Linked DNA regions of Homo sapiens. The gene in region 1 interacts genetically with each later gene. Each region holds a gene or a part of one and is shown on either strand. Other genes may lie near its edges.

Region 1 (3,492 bases):
TCTCTCCCGACCCCCTCCTCTTCTCTGCATCTCTCTCTCTGCCTCCTCTCCTCTGCACCTCTCTCCCAACCCCCAGGTCCTCTCAGGCCTAGCTCAGATGATGCGGGAGTGCTGGTACCCAAACCCCTCTGCCCGACTCACCGCGCTGCGGATCAAGAAGACACTACAAAAAATTAGCAACAGTCCAGAGAAGCCTAAAGTGATTCAATAGCCCAGGAGCACCTGATTCCTTTCTGCCTGCAGGGGGCTGGGGGGGTGGGGGGCAGTGGATGGTGCCCTATCTGGGTAGAGGTAGTGTGAGTGTGGTGTGTGCTGGGGATGGGCAGCTGCGCCTGCCTGCTCGGCCCCCAGCCCACCCAGCCAAAAATACAGCTGGGCTGAAACCTGATCCCCTGCTGTCTGGCCTGCTCAAAGCGGCAGGCTCCCTGACGCCTGGCTCTCTCCCCACCCCTATGGCCAGCATGGTGCACCCCCTACCACTCCCGGGACAGGATGCAAAAGAGGCTCCAGAGTCAGAGTGCCAAGCCAGGGAATCCCAGTCCCAGACTCAGAGCCCGGGCCTGCACTTTGCCCCCTGCCCTTGATCAACCCCACTGCCCCACCAGAGCTGCCAGGGTGGCACAGGGCCCTGTCCAGCCCCTGGCACACACTTCCCTGCCAGGCCTCAGCCTCTAGCATAAGCTCCAGAGAGCCAGGGCCCATCAGTTTCTCTCTGTGGATTTGTATCTCAGCTCCATGATGCCTTGGGCTTTCTGTCTCCTCAACAAGAGTGCAGCTTGCTGAATGTCAGCTGCCTGAGAGAGCTGGGGCCTGACTTACTAGGGCATTAAATCCTAAGAGGTCCTACTGAGGTGTGGCAGGATCACAGGCCAGTGGAAAAAGGGCAGGTCAGATGGGCAAGGCCCAGGACTTTCAGATTAACTGAGAGGATATCGAGGCCAAGCATGGCAGGGGGAAGGTCAGTGGGTGTCAAGAGACCCAGGTCTGACCCCGGATGTTTGCTCCATGTGACAAAAGCAGGCCTGTCTCAGGACCTTTTCTTTTCTTTTTTCCTTCTTTTTTTTTTTGACACGGAGTTTCGCTCTTGTTGTCCAGGCTAGAGTGCAATGGCATGATCCCAGCTCACCGCAACGTCTACCTCCCAGGTTCAAATCATTCTCTTGCCTCAGACTCCCGAGTAGCTGGGATTACAGGCACATGCCACCATGCCTGGCTAATTTTGTATATTTAGTAGAAACAGGGTTTCACCATGCTGGCCATGCTGGTCTCGAACTCCTGACCTCAGGTGTTCCACCTACCTCAGCCTCCCAAAGTGCTGGGGTTACAGGTGTGAGCCATCGCGCCTGGCCAGGACCTTTGTTTCTTATCTACATATTGGAAGATTTGGTCCTGATGTCCTTTGAGGCTTCTTTAGCTCTAGTTCTCTGACACTTCAGCCTATATCACAGCTAACTTCTTCAGTCTCATCTATTCCTTATGCTCCAGCCCCTGGCAATTTGCCTCAAGATGGGGGTTTGAAAATAACTTTACCTGACTCAAGGAGTGTCTGGAGCACCTCCTAGTCTAAGTCTGCAAGCTCCAGTTCTTGCCTAAAACCATGCCAGTGGCCACCCTTGGGCTCAGACAGCTCTGGGCCTTTTGACCACAAGCCAGCCCCTCGCCCTCTCTGTGGCATAGTCTTCTCTGCCCCAGGACTGCAGGGCGGCTTCCTCCAAGGCTTCCAAGGCTCAAAAGAAATTTGGCTCCATCCAAGAAGGCTCCAGCTCCCCTACTGGCCCCTGGCTCAGGCCCACACCCCTGGCCAGGCCCAGAGAGTGTGTCTCAGGAGAATTCAATGGCTCTAGAGAGACACACAGAAAGTTTGGCATTTGGAAATTTCAAGGATGTATGTATGCTCACGTATGGAGCAGGTTGTCCTGGTCCCTGGGTGCAGGGAAGTGGGCTGCAGGGAAGTGGATTGGAGGGGAGCTTGAGGAATATAAGGAGCGGGGGTGGAGACTCAGGCTATGGACAAGGACAGCCCCAAGGTTGGGAAGACCTGGCCTTAGTCGTCCTCAGCCTAGGGGCAGGGCAGTGAAGAAAGCTCTCCCCGCTCCTGCTGTAATGACCCAGAGTAGCCTCCCCAGGCCGGCATCTTATGTGTGTCTTCCACCATCCTCATGGTGGCACTTTTCTAGGCCTGTCTCCCAGCATTGTGCAAGGCTCGGAAGAGAACCAGGAAGTGAAACTGGGTGAAAACAGAAAGCTCAATGGATGGGCTAGGTTCCCAGATCATTAGGGCAGAGTTTGCACGTCCTCTGGTCACTGGAATCCACCCAGCCCACGAATCATCTCCCTCTTGAAGGATTTTATTTCTACTGGGTTTTGGAACAAACTCCTGCTGAGACCCCACAGCCAGAAACTGAAAGCAGCAGCTCCCCAAAGCCTGGAAAATCCCTAAGAGAAGGCCTGGGGCAGGAAGTGGAGTGACAGGGGACAGGTAGAGAGAAGGGGGCCCAATGGCCAGGGAGTGAAGGAGGTGGCGTTGCTGAGAGCAGTCTGCACATGCTTCTGTCTGAGTGCAGGAAGGTGTTCCAGGGTCGAAATTACACTTCTCGTACCTGGAGACGCTGTTTGTGGGAGCACTGGGCTCATGCCTGGCACACAATAGGTCTGCAATAAACCATGGTTAAATCCTGAGCTCCGGAGTCTTCCCAGGCCGATGCCTCTGCAGTGGCCCGTCGCAGAGGTCCAGATAAAACCAGAGGGATCCGGGGAGAAGAGGGTCCCAGGATACACGCCCAGCTTTGCCCTTAGACAGGTCACAGTTTCCTCACGCCCCTGCTCAGACCCCCGCGGGGGCCCAAATCTCAGTTCCTACCCCAGATTGGGAGCAGCCTAGTCGCCGCACCTGCCACGTCGCCCTCTGCTGGCCGAGGGCTGCCCAGCGGCCGCCTCCCATCCCCACACAGGGACCGCGGGGCCTTTCCCGGCAGGGTGGGGCAGCCTTCCCCGCACCCGGGGGCCAACGTCTGTGTGCTCACTGACTTGCTGTTCTGCAGGGACTGTCCCCCTAATACCACACCTAGCGAAGAGCGTTCTGCTTCCGAACCGGCAGCTTGGACCCTCCCTCCTCAATTCCTTGTTCTCACTTCCCTTCTCAAATGGGGTCCCCATCTTGCCAGGAGTCAGTCCCCATTCCCAGCATGGGAAGATCCCCTTCCCTGGGGACCTACCTTGTCCTGGGATCAGAAGGCACTTCACACACACATCCCATTCTCACACCCGGAAATTCGGGGCGGGGACATGCTGTGGGGGAGGCAGATACTAAAAGAAGCTGAGAGGGTCCTGGCCCATGGGACTGCCCAGCCTAGAAAATCTGTGCCTTCGTGTTAGACGCCCTCTTAGGGAAACATAGGAAGGGTACACCTTACACCACAGATGACCTTGTGGTCCCTTGCACCCCCAAGGCGGCCTCATGCCTGGAACCTCCTACCCTGGGTTCATGGATCC
Region 2 (3,813 bases), about 68 Mb from region 1:
CAGGCTGGAGTGCAGTGGCACGATCTCTGCTCACTGCAACCTCCGCCTCCTGGGTTCAAGCAATTCTCCTGCCCCAGCCTCCCGAGTAGCTGGGATTACAGGCACGTGCCTCCACGCCCGGCTAATGTTTGCATTTTTAGTAGAGATGGGGTTTCACCACGTTGGTCAGGCTGGTCTCGAACTTCTGACCTCGCGATCCGCCTGCCTCGGCCTCCCAAAGTGTTGGAATTACAGGTGTGAGCCACTGCACCTGGCTGACTCGTAACTTTTTTTGTAAGTAATAAATATTTTAGGCTTTGTGGGTCCTGTAGTCTCTGTTGCAACCACTCAACTTGGCCATGGTAGCACAAAAGCAGCTAAAGACAATATGTAAATGATGGGTGTAGCTGTGTTCCAGTAAAACTTATAAAAAGTCCGTGGGCTGGATTTGGTCCAAGGGCTACAGATTGCACACCCCTGGTCTAGCCCAAGCATCTGTGCATGGTGGCTGGCTTCCCAAAAGTGGAAGCTGCTAAGCTGCCTTTTTTTTTTTTTTTTTTTTTTTTGAGAGGGAGTCTCACTGTGTTGCCTAGGCTGGAGTGCGGTGGTGTGATCTCGGCTCACTGCAACCTCCATCTCCCGGGTGCAGGCAATTCTCATGCCTCAACCTCCCAGGTAGCTGGGATTACGGGTGCCTACCACCACGCCTGGCTAATTTTTGTATTTTGGTAGAGACAGGGTTTCACCATGTTGGCCAGGCTGGTCTCAAACTCCTGACCTCAAGTGATCCACCCGTCTTGGCCTCCCAAAGTGCTGGGATTACAGATGTGAGCCACCGTGTCTGGCCGCTTGACAAGCTTCTTAAAGGCACTGCCCTGAACTGGCACAGTGTCACTTGTGTCACATTCTTTTGGTTGAAGAGAGTCTCAGAGATGGCACAGATTCAAAGGCAGGAGAAATAGACTCCAGCGCTTAAAGTAAGGAGTAGCATGTGCCTACAGAATTGGAGGAACTGTTGGAGGCCATCTTTGAAGAGAGACCACCACTATCCATGGCTTGGCACGTGGGAATCACTGCTCTATACCAGGGTTGCAGACTCATGTCTTTGGGGGCCAGGCAGTGAGTATAAATGAGTCAAGTGGGCCAGTTGGAAGATGGAGTCAGACCTGCAGTGAACTCCCAAACACATCTGCTACCGGGAGGGGCAGCATTACTCAGCTCCAGCTCAGCGTCATCAGGCAGGAAGGCGAGGCAGTGTTGCCGGATGTGCCAGTGTTTCAAAAGAAGCCAGAGACTCCATTTTTATTTTTTTGTATGGAATCTCCTGATTTTGAAATATTGGCAGATAATTCAAATTATCTTAAACACTACAGGCCAAACAAAACATATCTGTGGGCTAGAGACAGTCTGCCAGTTTGTAACTATTTCTCCAGATCATGAGTAAATTTGGCTTTACGATGGTCACTCAGTTCTTATTACTCTAGGTTGTTCAAATGAATTAAAAAAGCTGAAATTATATGAATAAACCCCTGGGCACACATGAAAGAAGTGAAAAACCCATTGTTTCCTATTGTAGAAACATGGAAGCATGTCAGAGCCAGAGGATCCAGAGGAAATATTCTCACTAGCCTCAGACCCTCAGGAGTGAGGGAGCTTTTCTTGTTAATGGCCACGCTTGTGCAGTTTTCCTTCCCAGGTGCTGGTGAAAGAAACCCACAGTCTTGGAATCATGGAAGTGATACCATAATGACTGTCAGTTGACGTTGCTTTAAAGAATGAAGCCACAGAATTGTGCTGTTAGCATGTCGTGAGCAGTTAGTTGAGTTGGTGGCTTGTAATTTACTCTGTGTGGATGTTATTGATCAAAGCTTTTCATTATTGACAGTGTCTCCATCTGCTGTTTGCTGTTTTTAGGGGAAACCACCCTTTATGACTCAACAGCAGATGTCTCCTCTTTCCCGAGAAGGGATATTAGATGCCCTCTTTGTTCTCTTTGAAGAATGCAGTCAGCCTGCTCTGATGAAGATTAAGCACGTGAGCAACTTTGTCCGGAAGTGTAAGTTTGGGGAACTTTTTCTTGAAAACTGTCCTGAGAGAGAAAAACTAGAAAGATGCTTGAGGCAGAATGAGTTACTGGTTGATAGTAGTCGGTAAGAACTCTGGTTCTATATAAGACAGATCCAGGTTCAAATTCAGGCTGCACCTCTTATAGCTGGGAGACCAGGTAAGTTGGGCTTCTTGGTTGCAAGCGACAAACTTAATTCAAAGACTGAATTTAGGCCAGGTGCAATGGCTCATACCTATAATCTCAGCCCTTTGGGAAGCTGAGGTGGGTGAATCGCTTGAGCCCAGGAGTTCAAGACCAGCTTGGGCAACATGGTGAAACCCCATCTCTACAAAAAATACAAAAATTAGCTGGGTATGGTGGCTTGCACCCGTGGTCCCAGCTGCTGAGGAGGCTGAGGTGGGAGGATCACTGGAGCCCGGGAGGTTGAGGCTCAATGAGCTGTGATTGTGCCATTGCACTCCAGTCTGGGTGACAGAGTGAGACCCTGTGTGAATAAAAGAGTGAATTTATTGGCTCATGAAACTGAGAAATCCAGGAATGAGTTAAGTTTTAGCTTTAGGCATAGCTAGTTCCAGAGACCTCAATAATATCCCGTGGCCCTGTCCTTATACTCACTCAGGGCTGACTTTCTATTAGGCAGAGTAGGCACGGTGCTTAGGATCTGTGATATTTAATTTTAATGAATTTAATTACTTTTAATTAACTGAATTAAATTTTAATTTGTTTTAAAATTATAGGAAAAATGAATATAATAATGTATAATGATTCTGGATTACATTCATCTTTATACTAATGTAGTCATAAAATATAATTTTTGTTTTTTTTGGAGACAGAGTCTTGCCCTATTACCCAGGCTGGATTGCAGTGGTATATCATGGCTCACTGCAGTTTCAACCTTCTAGGCTCAAGCAATCCTTCCACCCCAGTGGCTGGGACTACAGGCTCACACTACCACGCCCAGCTAATTTTTGCTTTTTTCTCTGTAGAGATAGGGTCTTACTATGTTACCCAGGCTGGTTTCAAACTCCAGGCTTGAAGCAGTCTTCCTGCCTCAGCCTCCCAAAGCTTTGGGATTACAGGTGTGAGCCACCATGCCTGGCCCCATAAAATATAATTTTTGAATTCTTTTTTGTTTTTAATGGAGGAAGGGGCTGAGGAAGGCAAAAGTACCTAGGGCCTATGAAGTCATATATTGGCCTTGCCTTCACCCTGTTTCTGACTTTGCTTGACTTCCATGTGATGAGGCAGTTGGCTGTTAGTGTCCCAGTTTCATACTCTTACATTAGTGTTTTTCAACCAGTGGGTGATTTGACGTTTTCGGTTGTCAGAGCTAGTTGGGGGTGGTGGTGTGTGAGTTTGGGGGGAAGGGTCCTACTGTCAGTTAATGGGTGAGGCCAGAGATGCCACCAAACACCTTACAGTGCACAAAGCAGCCCCCATAACACAGAATTATGTAGCCCACAATGCCAACAGTGCTGAATTTGAGAAACCCCACCTTGTACAACATTGCTGTGCAACCAACCACCCTAAATATTACTGACTTAAAACAATAGTCACTGTGGCTGGGCGCGGTGGCTCATGCGTGTAAGCCCAGCGCTTTGGGAGGCTGAGGCGGCGGATCACTTGAGGTCAGGAGTTCCAGACCAGCCTGGCCAACATGGTGAAACCTTGTCTCTACTAAAAATACAAGAATTAGCTGAATGTGGCAGCGGGCGCCTGTAATCCCAGCCATTTGGGAGGCAGAGGCAGGAGAATCGCTTGAACCT

The links.
Region 2: changes in ACVRL1 (region 1) and CIT together harm fitness more than expected from each alone (negative genetic interaction), as found in Homo sapiens cells (one large-scale study listed by BioGRID).

The regions. Positions count from the first base shown.
Region 1 is NC_000012.12:51,920,683-51,924,174, forward strand, and holds the end of ACVRL1 (activin receptor type-1-like isoform 1 precursor), read left to right. Parts: intron 1-76; coding exon 77-211; 3' UTR 212-2,679; downstream 2,680-3,492. UniProt on the Homo sapiens protein: Type I receptor for TGF-beta family ligands BMP9/GDF2 and BMP10 and important regulator of normal blood vessel development. On ligand binding, forms a receptor complex consisting of two type II and two type I transmembrane serine/threonine kinases.
Region 2 is NC_000012.12:119,867,282-119,871,094, reverse strand, and holds part of CIT (citron Rho-interacting kinase), read left to right. Parts: intron 1-1,893; coding exon 1,894-2,035; intron 2,036-3,813. UniProt on the Homo sapiens protein: Plays a role in cytokinesis. Required for KIF14 localization to the central spindle and midbody. Putative RHO/RAC effector that binds to the GTP-bound forms of RHO and RAC1. It probably binds p21 with a tighter specificity in vivo.